Regions from separate parts of the Homo sapiens genome. Here region 2 is linked to region 1. The links come from fine-mapping of genetic effects on gene expression. Tissue or cell type: whole blood. Region 1 holds a variant in brackets; the other region holds the start of a gene. All regions are shown on one strand. Distances are between the middles of the regions.

Evidence for each region.
Region 2: it holds the start of PID1, and the variant in region 1 is fine-mapped to the expression of PID1 in whole blood (INTERVAL, PIP above 0.99).

What each region holds. Positions count from the first base shown.
Region 1 is chr2:229,352,345-229,360,682 of GRCh38, reverse strand. It overlaps DNER (delta/notch like EGF repeat containing), which reads left to right. Exons shown (of 13, transcript NM_139072.4): 13 at 2,032-3,054. The coding sequence ends at 2,143. Among named protein-coding and RNA genes, the nearest start is that of PID1, 85 kb to the right of the region's middle. The variant C/G (reference allele first, on the strand shown) is at 4,345.
Region 2 is chr2:229,268,079-229,276,416 of GRCh38, reverse strand. It overlaps PID1 (phosphotyrosine interaction domain containing 1), which reads left to right and starts at 5,130. Exons shown (of 3, transcript NM_001100818.2): 1 at 5,130-5,403. The coding sequence starts at 5,374.

The DNA of each region.
Region 1 (8,338 bases):
CTCAGCACTTTGGGAGGCCGAGGCGGGTGGATCACGAGGTCAGGAGATTGAGACCATCCTGGCTAACACAGTGAAACCCCGTCTCTACTAAAAATACAAAAAATTAGCTGGGCGTGGTGGCGGGCGCCTGTAGTCCCAGCTACTCGGGAAGCTGAGGCAGGAGAATGGCACGAACATAGGAGGTGGAGCTTGCCGCGTGAGCCGAGACCACGCCACTGCACTCCAGCCTGGGCAACAGTGCGAGACTCTGTCTCAAAAATAAAAAATAAAAAAAAGGATGTTTTAAAGATATATACAATTGGGTTTTTCCTTTCAGCCAACCAATCGAATAATTAGTTAGTTAATATAATTTGTTGGCCCTCAAGTCAAAGCTCTCTATATCCTACTATGTTAGATATGGAGAGCTCTTCACTGGGTTGCTGGATATTTTTGGTTAAATTATTATTAGTGGTGGTGTATCTAGGTATTTTATGAGAAATAAATTGTCAAAATGTTTGCATCTTAAAGCAGCCTAGGAAATTGTCAGACTTGGGAGAAAGTGTAAGACCCAACAGGCCTGTTGACACTTTTACTCTGTTGACACTTTTCCTATCCTTAGATTATGCAGGCCTCACTCAATTTAGGTGAACAAACTGCAGGCTAGAGCCTGACCCACATCTATGTGAGCACAATGGTGGACCTTCAGTGAGGCTTCACATTTTAGAAAGTATTTATTGAAGTCTTTTGTCATATTGCAGTAATAGCTGTGGGTTTTTCTGAGGGTAGAATGCTTTAACTCTTTAACCCCGTGTTTTGCCTGGTGCCTGTCTGGCATAGCATATGCCTTTGTGCTCTTCAAGGCCAGTAAAATTTGAGAGGATTGGAATACAAGATTGATGACTGTTTAAAATGAAAGATCACATGAAGAACGCACTGTTTTCTCATTTCCCGCTTGATTCTACTTCCCATCTCCATACATGAGAAGACAGACTTTCAACATATCAAAGGAAAAAATAGGAAAAGAGGAGAGTTGGGACAGGAGCCATGGCAAATAAGCCCCTTTAATTCCTAGGGACCCCATCCTAGGAACCTTGTAAAATTTAAGGTTCTTTTAAAATGTCTTTTTAAAGAGCCCTGGTGGAATTGAAACAATTAAAAAATGTTGTCCAGACAAAGGAGGAGGGAGGATGGGTTAGTGTGGAAGATCGTTTGAATCCTGTTGCACTCCAGGGCTTGTAGGGAAGGTGAGGTCTTGAATGGGAAGAGACCACCCAGAAGTTGAATTGGCTTTATTTTAATAATTGCCACCTTACGACAGGTTTGACAGGAAGTCCTGAAATTGGATTTTGACTCCCTTGGCTTCTGAGAGGCAGTCCTGCTGTCGAGGCAATTTTGATACATACAAATCTGTTGGGACAATGGCTTTGTGCTCTGAGGAAAACATTGGCTTCTGTGTCCATAAGGTTGGGAGGTGATAGGTGGGTGGGATTCAATGGTGAGTTCTGGCATAGTTTGTGGACAGACACCTCTGTATCTGAAGTCATTTCCCACCTCTGCCCTTTTGTGTTGGGATCTCAGATGACCTTAAACCTTCACAGCTTATCCCCTGAAAATCCCACAGGAAAGGCTGTCTGTCCATGGCCCGGGGAAGACTGCCCTGGTGTTCTATATTCCAGGCACTGGAGTAGATATAAAATAAACTCACCTCTCCAAATATTTATGGGCCTCAGAAGAAAAAGACAAATCAATACACATTTTCTTAAAATCTATTGTGGAGCTGTCATGCTTGACTGCTTTGCCAAGATTTAACCTGCAAGCTCCAACTTTGAGCTCTACATTTTGTGAAATATGTTTTTTTGCCTCGAACACCAAAGACTAATGTTTATACACATTCAGTGTTAATATTAGGATGTCTAAAGTTTCTATGCTTGCTATAGAATATGTTTTTACAGTTTCATTTAATTCATGCATATAAATTATTCTCATCACTTGCTTTAATTAAACTTGAGATCTAGTATTTATCTAACCAGAGTCCTTTCTCTCTGATTTCAGGTTTGGAAAGAAATCCCGGCCTGCAATGTATGATGTGAGCCCCATCGCCTATGAAGATTACAGTCCTGATGACAAACCCTTGGTCACACTGATTAAAACTAAAGATTTGTAATCTTTTTTTGGATTATTTTTCAAAAAGATGAGATACTACACTCATTTAAATATTTTTAAGAAAATAAAAAGCTTAAGAAATTTAAAATGCTAGCTGCTCAAGAGTTTTCAGTAGAATATTTAAGAACTAATTTTCTGCAGCTTTTAGTTTGGAAAAAATATTTTAAAAACAAAATTTGTGAAACCTATAGACGATGTTTTAATGTACCTTCAGCTCTCTAAACTGTGTGCTTCTACTAGTGTGTGCTCTTTTCACTGTAGACACTATCACGAGACCCAGATTAATTTCTGTGGTTGTTACAGAATAAGTCTAATCAAGGAGAAGTTTCTGTTTGACGTTTGAGTGCCGGCTTTCTGAGTAGAGTTAGGAAAACCACGTAACGTAGCATATGATGTATAATAGAGTATACCCGTTACTTAAAAAGAAGTCTGAAATGTTCGTTTTGTGGAAAAGAAACTAGTTAAATTTACTATTCCTAACCCGAATGAAATTAGCCTTTGCCTTATTCTGTGCATGGGTAAGTAACTTATTTCTGCACTGTTTTGTTGAACTTTGTGGAAACATTCTTTCGAGTTTGTTTTTGTCATTTTCGTAACAGTCGTCGAACTAGGCCTCAAAAACATACGTAACGAAAAGGCCTAGCGAGGCAAATTCTGATTGATTTGAATCTATATTTTTCTTTAAAAAGTCAAGGGTTCTATATTGTGAGTAAATTAAATTTACATTTGAGTTGTTTGTTGCTAAGAGGTAGTAAATGTAAGAGAGTACTGGTTCCTTCAGTAGTGAGTATTTCTCATAGTGCAGCTTTATTTATCTCCAGGATGTTTTTGTGGCTGTATTTGATTGATATGTGCTTCTTCTGATTCTTGCTAATTTCCAACCATATTGAATAAATGTGATCAAGTCAAGGATGCAGTTGTCTCTTTTGTTCTTTGAAAACTATATATAAAAAGTTTTGGATGTGATATTGTTTGCCAAACAATCCCATGGTTGATACCATATTAAATAACCTGAGGAGTGCACCTCTGTGGCTGCCGGAGCCCCCTCCTTTGCCTCTGCAAGGCTTTCTGACCTCCTAATTGTCAGTAAGCTCACCCTAGCTGCTTGTCAGTGTGAAGTGTGGAAAAAAAATAAGAATTCTTATCTGAAGTTTTATATCCGAATTTGCCAGTGAAATGCAGCACAAGTGAACGGTGGGCACACTGGAATCCGGAGATGCTTCCAGGCATTGAGGGCAGGCACCTGTGGCCTCAAGAAATACCTTGCGTGCTGCTATCCTGTGGAGGCGCTGCTATCCTGTGGAGGCTAAATGAAATTGCCTTAGCAAATAGCTCCATGGTTCTTAGAAACTTGAAGGCCGTTTAGAGCCACCCTATATTCAGTTCCATTTTGTATCCAAATGCTGCTCTGAAGTCCCAGAGTTATTTTTAAAAATGCATTTTTAACTGTACACAGGAACGTCAGGTAAGGCCAAGAGGAGTCCTGGAACCAGGTGTGAGGGAGAGTTTTAAGCAAAAAGAATTATTTAAGGTTCTTTTCCTTCCCGCTCTACCCTCAAAACATCTGTTCCTAATCCTACAAATGACACAGCAGTACACCCACATTCTGATTATTAAATGATACAGTGCAATACATTAATATTTTCAGTTAAGTGGAAGTAAGGTAAGTACAAAATATTAACTTGGTTGGTTAAACAGTCATGGGAACATGCAGCAGAGTGTTGTGCAGACATACTTACTCCCATCTTCCTATAAAAGACCCTTTGGTTGTGTGTTGCTCAGACACTTCTTGATCGATGATAGGAGAGGGCCATGAAAAGGTGTGAGTTGTACTCCATTTGCCTCTTGACCCCCACGAGCACCTGGACATTGTCTGAGCCTCCGTGTCTTTTTTGCTTATTGGTCTTCATTTGCAAGCTGCTTCAATCACACCCTCTGAAATCATTTTCAATCTCCCAAAGTCTTAAATTCATTATATGCGATGTCTCTTAAAGGACTTGTTTAAAAAACTAAAGTCTTTTATCAATCACAGTTTGTCCCTTGAAAGCCAATTAATGGAGCTTGCAAATTCAGATCTTGGGCAGAGCCTTCTGACCATCTGAGAGTGGCCACCAAATATATCTAAAGACATTTGCTCATTCATTTGGACATTCAATGATAAGAATTCATCTCATCGAGCACTTATTCTTTGTCAGGCAGATG[C/G]TGACCGACAAGAGCCCTACCAGAGGATCCTGCCTCCCGAGCTTATAGCTTGTTTTGAACCAGACCTTCATCTAACAAACAAATAAATATAGAATTACACTTCATAGAGCACCATGAAGGAAAGGTAAACTCCACTATAGGGCAGCTTATTTGTAGCAGAGTAGATTAAAACCTTACTTCAATTGTTTACTTGGTAATGACTTTGGACAAGTAGCTCTCTGGGTCTAAGCTTCAAAATTTGAAAAATGGGGATCATGATAGGGCCTCCCTTGAAGAATCGTTGTGAGCATTGGATGCCAGACTGTGTGTGTATCACTTAGCCTCCCTCCAGCGCCCACCAAGATTCAGCACGTTAGCTATTGTTGTTGTTGCTGCTGTTCTTGTTTTACATTCAGACATGATCACAAAGTAGGATAGTACCCTCGCTTTTATGATTAATGATTGGGATCTGCAGTTAGTACATTGTGATATGTGTGAGGAATAGTCCTTCTAGAGCAGGGAGCACATTCTCTAAGGGTGTCAAAACTCCACCGTCTCAAGTTGTTACTTTGCACTAGCTGTGAAAATAGTACTTGATAAGCCAGAGTTAACTACTACTCCAGAATTCTTGAACTGATGGTGGTCTTATAACTCAGTGTAGCCATAATTAGTTCTCTAATATGTGAGTCTTCACAAGCCAAAGCAACTACATGTAATGACAGGGATCCCTGCCATCTAGAAATGGTACAGCAGTGTCTCCAGCTCATTCGGGAGTTTTTTTCAAAGCTTTTTACTCTTGCCACAAAATGACACATGCAGATAAGTTATTTCCAAGTGGTCTTAACCGTTGAGTTGGCCTCTTTGACCAAAGTCTCCACTTAGCACAGTGGGGCCTGGGCCTCCCACCCTGTCACTTAGTAACTCTGCCCTACTGGCTTCTGTTTCTTCATTTCATGAGGCTATAAATTTTTTGAACAATTTTGTCTGGCTGTGATTTTCTCCAAGAACTGAGAAGTGTCTGGGAGTCTGAACTGATCTTTTCTTCAAACAATGTTGTAAGTCCAGGTAAACAAAACCAAACAAAACTAACTTTTCAGGTATATGATAGTTTAAGTCATAGTTCTTTCTGTTAAAGTGTTTTGTAGTTTACTTATAGGGAAAACATTAACCATAGAAAAGAAACATATGTATGAAATCACCTTAAAATTATAAGTAACCACTCACAACAACCCTGGCAAATACCACTGGGTGCCTCCACCACAGCCGTTTCTCTGCCCTTCTTGTGATGCAACATAGAATTGAAAATGTCAGCTGTCACCTTCTCCAGCTTCCCTTGCTTTTAGGGGTGATTGTGGGTCAGTGTGGCTCAGTGGGCCCTTCAAGAAAATCTCCCGGGACCTCCTAAAAATACATTTCTTCCTGATTAGAGAGTGATGGAGTCAATGAAGAATCATCAGATGCTTTCAGGTAGGGGGAAGAAGAGTTCTCCTATGCTACAATAAAGAGCATAGACTTTGATATTATTCACACTATATCACAATTATCACAATTATTACACAATTGATCACAAGGGTTTGATGAACGCTGATGTGATTAGAATTAGTCCTTGACCTCAGTTTTTTCAGCTACAAAATGGAAATGGAAGTAGCCTATTTGAGCAGGTATCGATAAACTATGGCCCATAGGCCAACATATAGCCCAAAGCTTGTTTTTGCACAGCGCTTAAACTAAGAGTGATTGTGCATGTGTGTGTGAATTTTTCATACACTTTTTTTTGATGGATATAGAAGTTTTTATTTTATTTGTGTTTTCTGTATTTTTTTTTATGCTTTAAGTTTTAGGGTACATGTGCACAACGTGCAGATTTGTTACATATGTATACGTGTGCCATGTTGGTGTGCTGCACCCATTAACTCGTCATTTAGCATTAGGTATATCTCCTAATGCTATCCCTCCCCTCTCCCCCTACCCCACAACAGGCCCCGGTGTGTGACGTTCCCCTTCCTGTGTCCATGTGTTCTCATTGTTCAGTTCTCACCTATGAGTGAGAACATGCGGTGTTTGGTTTTTTGTCCTTGCGATAGTTTGCTGAGAATGATGGTTTCCAGCTTCATCCATGTCCCTACAAAGGACATGAACTCATCGTTTTTTATGGCTGCATAGTATTCCATGGCGTATATGTGCCACATTTTCTATTTTAGAACAGATTTTGATTTACAGGAAAGTTGTGAAGATATTACTAAAAGTTCCCATATACTCCATGTCTGGTTTTCCTCATAAACATTTTACATTAGTTGGGCACATTTGTCACAATTAATGAATTGATGCCTTACTATTGACTAAAATCCATACTTCATTCAGATTTCTTTACTTTTTACCTACTGTCTTTTTCTGGTTGTTCCAGGATCCTGTCTAGGACACCACATTACATTTGATCATCACGTCTCCGAGGCCACTCTTGGCTGCAATGATTTCTCAGACTTTCCTTGTTTTCATGACCTTGAGGAGGACTATGTATTTTCTAAGATGTTCCTCTATATAGATTTTTATGACGTTTGACCCATGATCAGACTGTAGTTACACGTTTTGGGGAGGACAACCACAGAGATAAAGTGCCATGTTCATCATGTCTTATCAAGGTTACATACTAACAACATGATTTATTACTGTGGATGCTGACCTTAATCACCTGGCTGAAGCATTGGTCAGGCTTCTCCACTGTAAAATTACCTTTTCCCTCTTCTCTCCAGACTGTACTCTCTGGAAGGAAGTCACTATGTGTAGCCCACACTTAGGGAGCGGGGAGTTATGCTTCTCCACTTCCTTAAGGATAAAGTATCTACTTCAATTATTTGGGATTCTGCATGAGAAATTTGTTTATTCTCCCACGTTTATTTATTCAATAACTTATTTATACTAGTATGGACTAACGGACATTTTTGTTATTGTTTGGAGTATAATTTAACACTTTTTTTTTTTTGCTCAAAATTTTCCATCTTTGGCCATTGAGAGCTTTTCTAGTCGGCACCTTTGACATACCTTCATCATTGTGTATCTCTGTGTGTGTGTACATGTGCCTGTGTGTGTGTATGTACCTGTGCCTGTGTGTGCGTGCATTTTAGCACTTTCTTGCTTTCTGGCAATACAGGATGCTCCAGGCTCATCTTGTGTGTTTCCTGCTTCAGACTTAGAATCAGCCATTTTTTTCCAGGGAGATTGGTTCCTTTCATTGCAGTGAGAGTGGTTTATAACAAATGAGCATTTGAAATTGATTTGACAATAGCCAACTGTCTTACTCCATTTGTGTGGCTATAACAAAATGCCTGAGGCCAGATAATTTATAAAGAACAGAAATGTATTTCTCACAGTGCCGGAGGCTAGAAGTCCAAAACCAAGATACCAGCAGGTTTGGTGTCTGGTGAGGACCTGGTGTCCACTTCTAAGATGATGCATTGTCGCCGCATCCTCTGGAGGGGAGAAACACTGTGTCCTCACATGGTGGAAGGGACAGGGGGTGAAAAGTGAGGAGTGAAAGTCCTCCTTCAAGCCCTTTCAGGTGGGCACCTAATCCCATTCATGAGGGCACAGCCCTCATGACTCAGTTCTAAAGGCCACACCTCTTAATAGTGTTGCATTGGGGGTTAAATTTTAACCTGAATTTTGGAAGCAACAAAGAAAGACATTCAAACCATACCATACACACTCACTTGGAAGCCCAATTAAGTGAAATATTTTCTACCCCACAGAGTTTTATTCTTCTCCTTAGTAGACTTGTATTACAAAAATAAATCGTATTCAATTATTGTTATATTTTGACTTCCATTAATAAAAAATGTGTGGAATGTTATCTCCTCTCATGTTATACAAGTATCTATATCATATGCTCAGTTTTATATCTTGGCCAGCACAAGACTAAAATGTTTAATATCTGGTCTTTTACAGACAAGGTTGGCTGACCTCTGCTTGAGAGCAACATTCTGTAGTGTAAGTGAGGTAACATACTTAAGGACCAGCA
Region 2 (8,338 bases), 84 kb after region 1:
AAATTGTGCCAGAAAATAAATTCATCTTAATCATTATATGGCTGGCGCCCAGCCCAATTCCCATCTTCTTTTCAGAGGGACTTACTAGAAAATTTAACAGATGGGACTTGGATACAGGGCCCACACAATCTGAGACTAGGATGGAGGTGTGTATGAGGGAATTGTGAGAGCAGAAATAAAACCAAAAGAGGAAATAAGTTTTTATGTTAGACTATTAGGCTTCATTTTACTGCTAACCCTGATCAATTGGTTGTTAGGAAATGTTGAGAAGGGTGTGTTTAGCGGGAAAGACAGACACTTATTAGTGATGTTTTCTCTATCAGTTTTCTATTATTACCTAACAAACCACCCAAAACTTAAGGGATAAAACCCAACCTTGTTATGTACTCATGATTCTGTGGGTCAGCAGTTGGCAGGTCTCAGCTGGGTGGTTCTTCCACTGGTGGGACCCACATGGGATCACCCATGTGGCTGCTGTCGTGTAGTGGCTTGAGCTGGGTGTTATGAGATGACCTTACTCACATATCTGGCTGTGGGTGCTAACTCATGGTCTGACCTCCCTCTGTGTTGTTCTCATCTTGAGGAGTCTAGTCCAGGCTCCTTCATAGGATGACTTATGTTCCAAAAGGGTGAGAGCAGAAGCTGCAAAGTGTTTTGTGGCCCAAGCTCAGAAGTTCCACAGTGTCACATCTGCTGCATTTTATTGGTCAAGTATGCCACAAGTCCAGCACAGATTCAAGGAATGTGGACAGATTGCATCTCATGATGAGAGAAGCAGGCAAGTTACAGTGCAAATGGGCATGACTTCCTTGGGGAGGGGAGATTTTTGTGGGCATTTCTGAAAATAATCTATCAGGTGTCTAAGGTTTGTGAGGATATGAGGAGTCAAGAGTAGGAGAGTCACAACACACGAATGAGCCAGTCCTACCCTGTTAAGCGTCATCTTAACATCCCAATACATTCCTATCACTCTGTAGGGACGAAAGCCAGTGGTTCTGTCACTACTGGGAGGTTTAAATGGTCGAATGAATTTTCAGACTTTTTTATATTGCTCATTTATATACAGCTGTTTTGGTGATTTTGAAATAAGGTTAGTGATACCATAACAAGGGCTTTTTAATGATAATTCTGCTAAATACACAACCATAATAAATTTTGCTGTCATCTGCTTAAGTTAGAATTGTAAGTGGGCCAGGTATGGTGGCTCATGCCTGTAATCCTAGCGTTCTGGGAGGCCAAGGCAAGTGAATTACTTTAGCCCAGGGAGCCTGGGAAACACAGCAATACTCTATCTCCATAAATTTTTTTTTTAATTAGCTGGGTGTGGTGGCACAAACCTGTAGTCCCAGCTATTCAGGAGGCTGAGGTGGAAGGATTGCTTTGAGTCTGGGAGGTTGAGGTTGCAGTGAGCCGAGATCGCGCCACTGCACTCCAGCCTGGGCGATAGCGTGAGATCCCATCTCAAAAAAGAAAAAAGAATCGTAAGTGAGCTTGAATATCCTTTGTCATTTTTATTTGAGAATCTAAAGCAAATAATTGAAACCCACAAATATTCCAAATGGAAATAGTGTAACCACAAGAAGCATGGGCCGCTTTGTGAGAATTGGATCATTCCAATAATAAAAAGAGAAAGAAACATAATGGGGATGAAAACGAATGTTTCCCACACACCTACCATGTGTCAGGCATGCTGCACATATTAATTCATTCACTCCTCCCCAAAATCCTAAGTATTAAGTAATATTATCACCCATTTTATAGAAGAGAAATCTGAGGTTCAGCAAGGCAAATGACTTGTGAAAAGCTGATACCTAGGTAGACAGTTCGAAGGCTGGGATTCAACCTGAGTCTTCTGCTTGTCCTAGCTCCTTTCCAACATTTACTGAGATTGATAAATATTTTATACATATATTCAAATTATATACATTTTATCCTACTTTAAAAACCATAATTGTATCATTTTCAGCTGCAACACAACTTTATAATTATCCTTTTAAATGCTGCATAATATTTTAATATTTCTTTGATATGCTGGACCATACTTTCATTCACCATTACTCTGACTTGGACATTGAGGTTGCTTATGCTAGGGCTCAGAACCATGAACTAGATCAAATCTGGCTTAACACAATTTCTAGGGATGCTGTAATTATTTTTCTGAACCAAATGTGTGAATAACGCATCTGTGCCTTGTCAAGCTTTTTTGATTTCTGTCATTTGCCTTCAAATGGTATTTATTGACAAGATTAGACCTGTTTCGGTAATTGCAGGAGACTAAGTACATGAAATTAGGCACACATTTACATGCCTAATATTTCTACTCATTGCACCAAAACACCTTCTGCTCATTTTAAGGGTGGTTTCTTGCTCAGAACAAACCTGTTTACATCGTAAGGCAGCATTTTCAGATTCACCAGGAAGGATGAGGTTCCAATGTCACAGAACAGAGCTGGGAGACATTGGCATGCAGGTCTCATCTCTAGCCAGCAGATGTCTCTATTTCATTCACCCTTCATTGCAGGCTCCTCCTGAATGGGAAGACTTGGGAGCAAAATCTATGAGTGGGAGGTTGTCCCATCCTTTTGTCACCTCCCACAAGCCTGCAATTGCCCCTCCTCCACCCCCTCCCCTAGCTTCCTGATTCGTGGCATAAAGGTAATTGAAACAGGAGTGCCATTTGAGTTTAAATACATTCTTTACTTTACCAAATCTGTTTGCAAAGTGGGAACGGTAACTGAAAGCAATCTTTACAGAGCCAAAGCTTTTTCTCTTTAAATAGCACCATACTCCGTACTAAAAGCTGTATTACTGAGTCATAACAATTAATTACGTTTGGAGGTGAGAAGACAGGATTTAACGCTCTAATGCGATTTGAATTTAGGCCGTTAACTCATTCCACTGCTATTTAAAACAAAATCACTTTTCCACGGAAGCATCTGCAAGCAAGGATGGTTTCAGAGCTTAAGTCTGAAGACATCCCTGGCAACTGAATATTCCTGTTTTAGCTTCCTGGGGGGGTTGGGGGGTGGGGTTTATATGCATGTCTGGATTTTCTAGATTTTTGTAATGAATTGCATTTCTTTCTACTTTGGGATTTGATAAAAGAGAACTGGGGGCTGGGAAGGTCATAAGGAATTTTGTAGGTGTGGAGGTGTGCAGGAGGAGTTACCGGAAAAGCAAACAGAGACCATATCACCAAGCATGTGAGGCACATGTCTGTGCGGGCTGACAGGCAAACACCTCATGAAAAGAGATTTATTAATAAGTTCAGAACAAGTAGCAGGAACTGGAGAAGGAGCTGAGAAGGTTCAGGTGGTTATCAGGCAGGAGTGGGAGGGTCCTGTGGATATCCAGGGAGACAGAGACAAGCTCTTCAGAGGCAGCTCTGTGGCTTTGCCAGAGGCTCCTAGAGGCACTGAGGGTCCTGGGCTTGCCAAGGCTGGTGGCACCAACATAGCAACCGCAGGGTCCAGAAGGATCTGCCTGGAATCCTGGATCTGAATCGCCATTGTAACTCCCCACAGTGTGACTCTGTGAACCCTGTGCTCCCCAAGCCTTGGGAGATAGGGGCTTCTGTCCCACGGAGAGTTGCTGCGAGGGTCCGATGAGCTGAGGGTTAGATTCTGGAGTGGTTCCATATCTGGAAATCATTGTAGTCATGCAGAACAAGGAAAATGGACAGATCCTCCTTCCAGACATGGAGTGTGGATTTTGACATTGCATGAGTAGCTCACGGCCCAAGCTGTGCAGCTGTCTCAGTATGAAATGCCTCTCTTTCACACCCCTCTGCTCTCAGGACCCTGCCTTGTAGGAGCCTAGGGCTCCCCACAAACATTGTGTTCTCTCTGCTCCTCTCTTTGGTCATTCTATGTCCTGAGTTCTTCCCACCATGTTCTCCTCTCCCACTCTTCATCAGCTCGAGAATCAGCTTAGTATCCCTGACTTGCCAAGTGCCTTTAACCCCCAGCCCTAGACGGATGCTCTTTCCACTGGGTTTCCATGGTCAGTTAGAGGCGCAGGGCCACATCTCCTGCCCTGAAGTCATCTGACTGTGCACTCTCTAAGCCACTCACTGGCTGTGTGACCTGGACAAGTGACCTAAACCTTATAAGCCTCATTTGTTTGATCCACATGGTGAAAATATTAATAGTTATTTTGCCGAGTTGTCAAGAGAATGGGAAGGGCTGGCCTGTTTAGGACAGGAAGTCATCTCATGGTGGCCGGCACTAGCCGGGGAGCCTCCAGGCCTGCGAGCCCAGAGCGGCTTTCCCTTGGGTTCTGAGAGCCTCCTGCTGCACCTGGCAGATCTCAGGATGAGTTAGTGATTCGGGAGTCTGCATGGCCCTCCTCACCCCTGTATAGGTTAGGAGTCGAGTCCTCTCCCCATCATGAAGCATGGCCTCTTCGTGGCCAATCCCTCTCATCTCTCAGGTCTTACTCCAGGCATTCCCCAGGGCCCTTGTCTAAGAAGCTCTCCTCTCCCCTTCTTCCCACATCTGCCCTGTTTTATCACCACCCGATATAGCACCGGCTTGTTGATGTGTTTGCTCAGTCACGACTCTCTCTCCAAAGCAGAAGGTAAGCTCCAGAGAGAAGGAACATTCTCTTGTCTTCTATTCTGCGTCGCTGCATCCTCAGAACCCAGCATAGGGGCTGGAGCCTAATAGATGCTCAGTTAACTGGAGTGGGAAGAATGAATGGAAGTGTCTCCCTAGCACAGCGCCAGGCACAGCACAGGCACTTCAGAGATGCCTGTTATATGGAAACCCGGGACCCCCGGGGCTACGGTTTCCTTATTTTAGGAATTTCCCCCACCCCCGCCACCCCCGACATCCCCGCTGCCCCCACCACCCCCGGCTCCAGGCCCTTCCCCCCTCAGCCAGTCTGTCCCTTTTCCCAGACCCCAACCCAATGGGGGCTTCCTGCAGGGAAGGGCCGGCTGTTCTAGCCTCCCCATTCACCCCTCACTAGGATTTAGAGTCGGCCGCGCTGCACTCCCGCCCCGCGCGGCCCCTGGGCGCCCGCCCCGGGCATGCTCAGAGCGCGCAGGTCCGGGCGGCGGCGGCGGGGGAGGAGGGAGCGGCCGCCCCCGCCGCCGCCGCGCGCTCGCCGGGCCCGGGCGGAGCTGCGCAGTCCTCTCGCAGCTGCGCCAGGACAGCCGGCGCGCGGCCGTGCCCACAAGTTGCCGGCAGCTGAGCGCCGCGCCTCCTCCTGCTCGCAGCCCCCTACGCCCACCCGGCGGCGGTGGCCAGCGCCAGGACGCACATCCCGCGGACACCGACCCCAGATGTAAAGCGGGACCCCAGCCCCTCGCCCCCCGGCGCGATCGACAGTCTCGCCAGCGTCTCCTCTGCCAAAACCCAGGGCTGGAAGATGTGGCAGCCGGCCACGGAGCGCCTGCAGGTAAGGGGCACCCGGGAGCCGGGGGCCAGCCTGGAGGAGGAGGTGCCCGGGCAGAGGAACCTAGTTTTTGCTTCTGCCTACTTTAGGGGATTTGCCCAAAACCATCTTGTAAGACGCATCGATGGCAACATGATGCTGTCGGTTTACCCAGCGCCAGGAACCCGGCAGGGGTATGGGGATGATGAAATTGATAAACGCACGGGTTCAGGCGTTACAACTTTTGGCTTGGAGGTGCTTGTGTGCGTGTTGGTTGGTACATATAAGGTTGGACTTTCTGACTGGCAATTTAGATTGCATTCCACTGACACAATGCAGTGGTCTGGGGTTAGGATTTTTGAAGCCAGATTTTTTTTTTTTTTTTTTTTTTTTTGTGGTCACCAGGAAAGACAGAACAAGTGATATGTGAAAGCATCCATTTGCCAATATAATGTGGAAATATCAAGCTTGGTTTGGCTTGGTCATGGTATGCTACTTATTTTATTTTTCCCTATTCATTGGTTCTCTCCCTTTATCTTCCTTAAACCCAAGCTCCTTCAGATATTTAAGAATCAAAAGTAGGTTCAGCCAGGAATATTTATGTCCTGGGTTATCCCATCAAAAGTTTTTTACTGCTGTCTCCTGAAATGCCAGACTGCCTTGAATTGGATTCTGGAAGCTGGGGATTTGCGGGAGGCGATTGAAGAGAAAGAGGGACCTTTCCCAGAAGAACTCCTTCAGTGACACGTTGGGCCTTGGGATTGCCCTGGTTGCAAGGTTTGAGGACTGCCTTTTGCTGGCAAATATTGTCAAGAGTCACGGCAGCTACTCTGCCAGATAAAATCCACTGAATCCTGCAGTTAAACTTTTGGCAAGCTAGGAGCCACATTGTTTCGTAGTAAACTTTGAAGACGTGTTTAACTGGTAAAATACAGCACCATTGGAGGCTGAGTGCATCTGAAGACTTAGGACAATGAGGCCAGGCCCTGGCTAGGTTGGAGGCTTCTCAATGAACATTTACAGCCCCAAGCACAGTTTCTCAGATGCAGGGAGAGGCTAACCTTTGTCTAGGAGTCCTCATACAGAGGAACAACCCGCAGAGGGCATTGCATTTAGCAGAAACAGATGCCCCACAGCTCCTTTCCAAAGCTCCCTGGGCCATGATTTGCGGGGAGTGTGTTCAATTTATCAGAGCCTGAGACACCAGACCAGTTCCCCAGGGTCTCAAGTAGAATAAACAAGAAAACCTGCATTTAGCCTTGCAGATGAGGAGGTGGATGACCAACCTCCTAACCCCCTCCTTGTCTTACTAAGAGAATATCAGCACTGGGCTCTGAATGACTGATAGAAGGTGATGTAAATATATTTTGGCAGTGGCACCAGATACCAGTGGCGCATTTGAAGTTCTCCTTCGGTTAAAGGCGTAACTTCTATTCCAAAGGAGCAGAATGATTGAGGGGAGCTGGCAGGTTTCCTGTTCAAGTGCAGAGGGTAGCTTTTGGAAGTCCTTAGAGAGATGTGACCAAAATTCCTTGAGGTGGCTTTTATGGCCTGATGATCTGTACCTCTGAAGAGTTTGTAGATTTTTGACTATTCAAGTTCTTCCTACCGGCCTGTTTCACTTAGGGAATCCTGTGCGCTCTGGAGCATGTGACCCTTGGCAGGTGGGCGCTCTCGCTTGCCTTCCCATAGAGATTGCTCCTCACTAGAAATGTCTCCCCCTTATTTTGTGAAATGTGCACGTGTGCATTTTGGCGTGAGCCTGGTTTATTGCAGTTGGTGTTTGCAATGCGTTTATTTTATTTCAAGGTGTCATGTTGAAAGAACCTGTTTTTAGGCTTTTGAAAGCTCATATAAACAGGGCTTATCACCAATAAGACCGAGTCACTGTTGGAAGGTCCTTACCAACAGGGGGCTCAACTTCATGCTGCCCAAATTTCGATGAGTCTCTTTTGAAAGTACATACATCTCAAGCCTTGAGATTAGAGAAGTGAGACAAATGCGGAAAAATTTTTTTATATCCGTGGCTTCTTCCCAAAGAGTATTGCTTGACTCTCCTTGAAAACACATAATTTATATGTTTTTACTTTTGCCTCTGAGAGAGCTGTTGAGGATGAGATGGTGAGTGAGCTGCTTATCATATTTTATTTACATTCCTTGTGGTTATCTTTGTCACAATCTCTGTTTGCTGTCTGGGGTTTTTTCCTTTTCTTTTCCTTTCACCGTGATATAGAAACATGCCTGTCCGATTCCTCAGTGAGAAGCCACTTTGCCACTCCCAGGCTCTGTGGCCACAGAGATAGCAGTGGATATCATGCTGGATAGGAAACTTGAGAATGAGTTCTGCTCTTTAATGATGTCTGAGCTCCATGTGCCTTTCACAAATCTTTATAAACCTTCTCATTCGACCTCATTAATTTTTTTCTCATTTATCTTTAATACAAACATTCTAATTTAGATGAGCCAGAGTGAAGAAAATTCGTCAAGGAAACATTCCCAGAACTTCCTAATAGGACTAAGGAGTCAATTTATTTTATCAATACCTAGAATCAAAAGAGGGGATGGAAGAAAATAACCAGACCCTTTCTTGATGATATAGTTCATATTCGATGAAGCTGGTTTGAGAAGTCTGTGTCCCAGGGGAGTGTGATAGATCTTTGCGTAGAACAGTCACCCTCTAAATAATGGACTTTTGAGTGTAGCAACTGGCTCCGTTGCTCAGGAAATGGCATCTTTGATCAGGTTTGATTATCATTATTGTTACCCACACTTCTGTGTCCCCACAAAATGATGCTGATATTTTCTGATTTGAGGTTTAGCTGTTTGACCCAAATCCAGCACAGGCAAAGGGACCTATTGCCCTGAGCAGAGCTGCGCTGGGTAATTTCTCATTCAGTCACACAAACCGAGGCAAGTTCATCTGCTCCCTTGAATGTTAAAACTTCTATTGCATCCCACT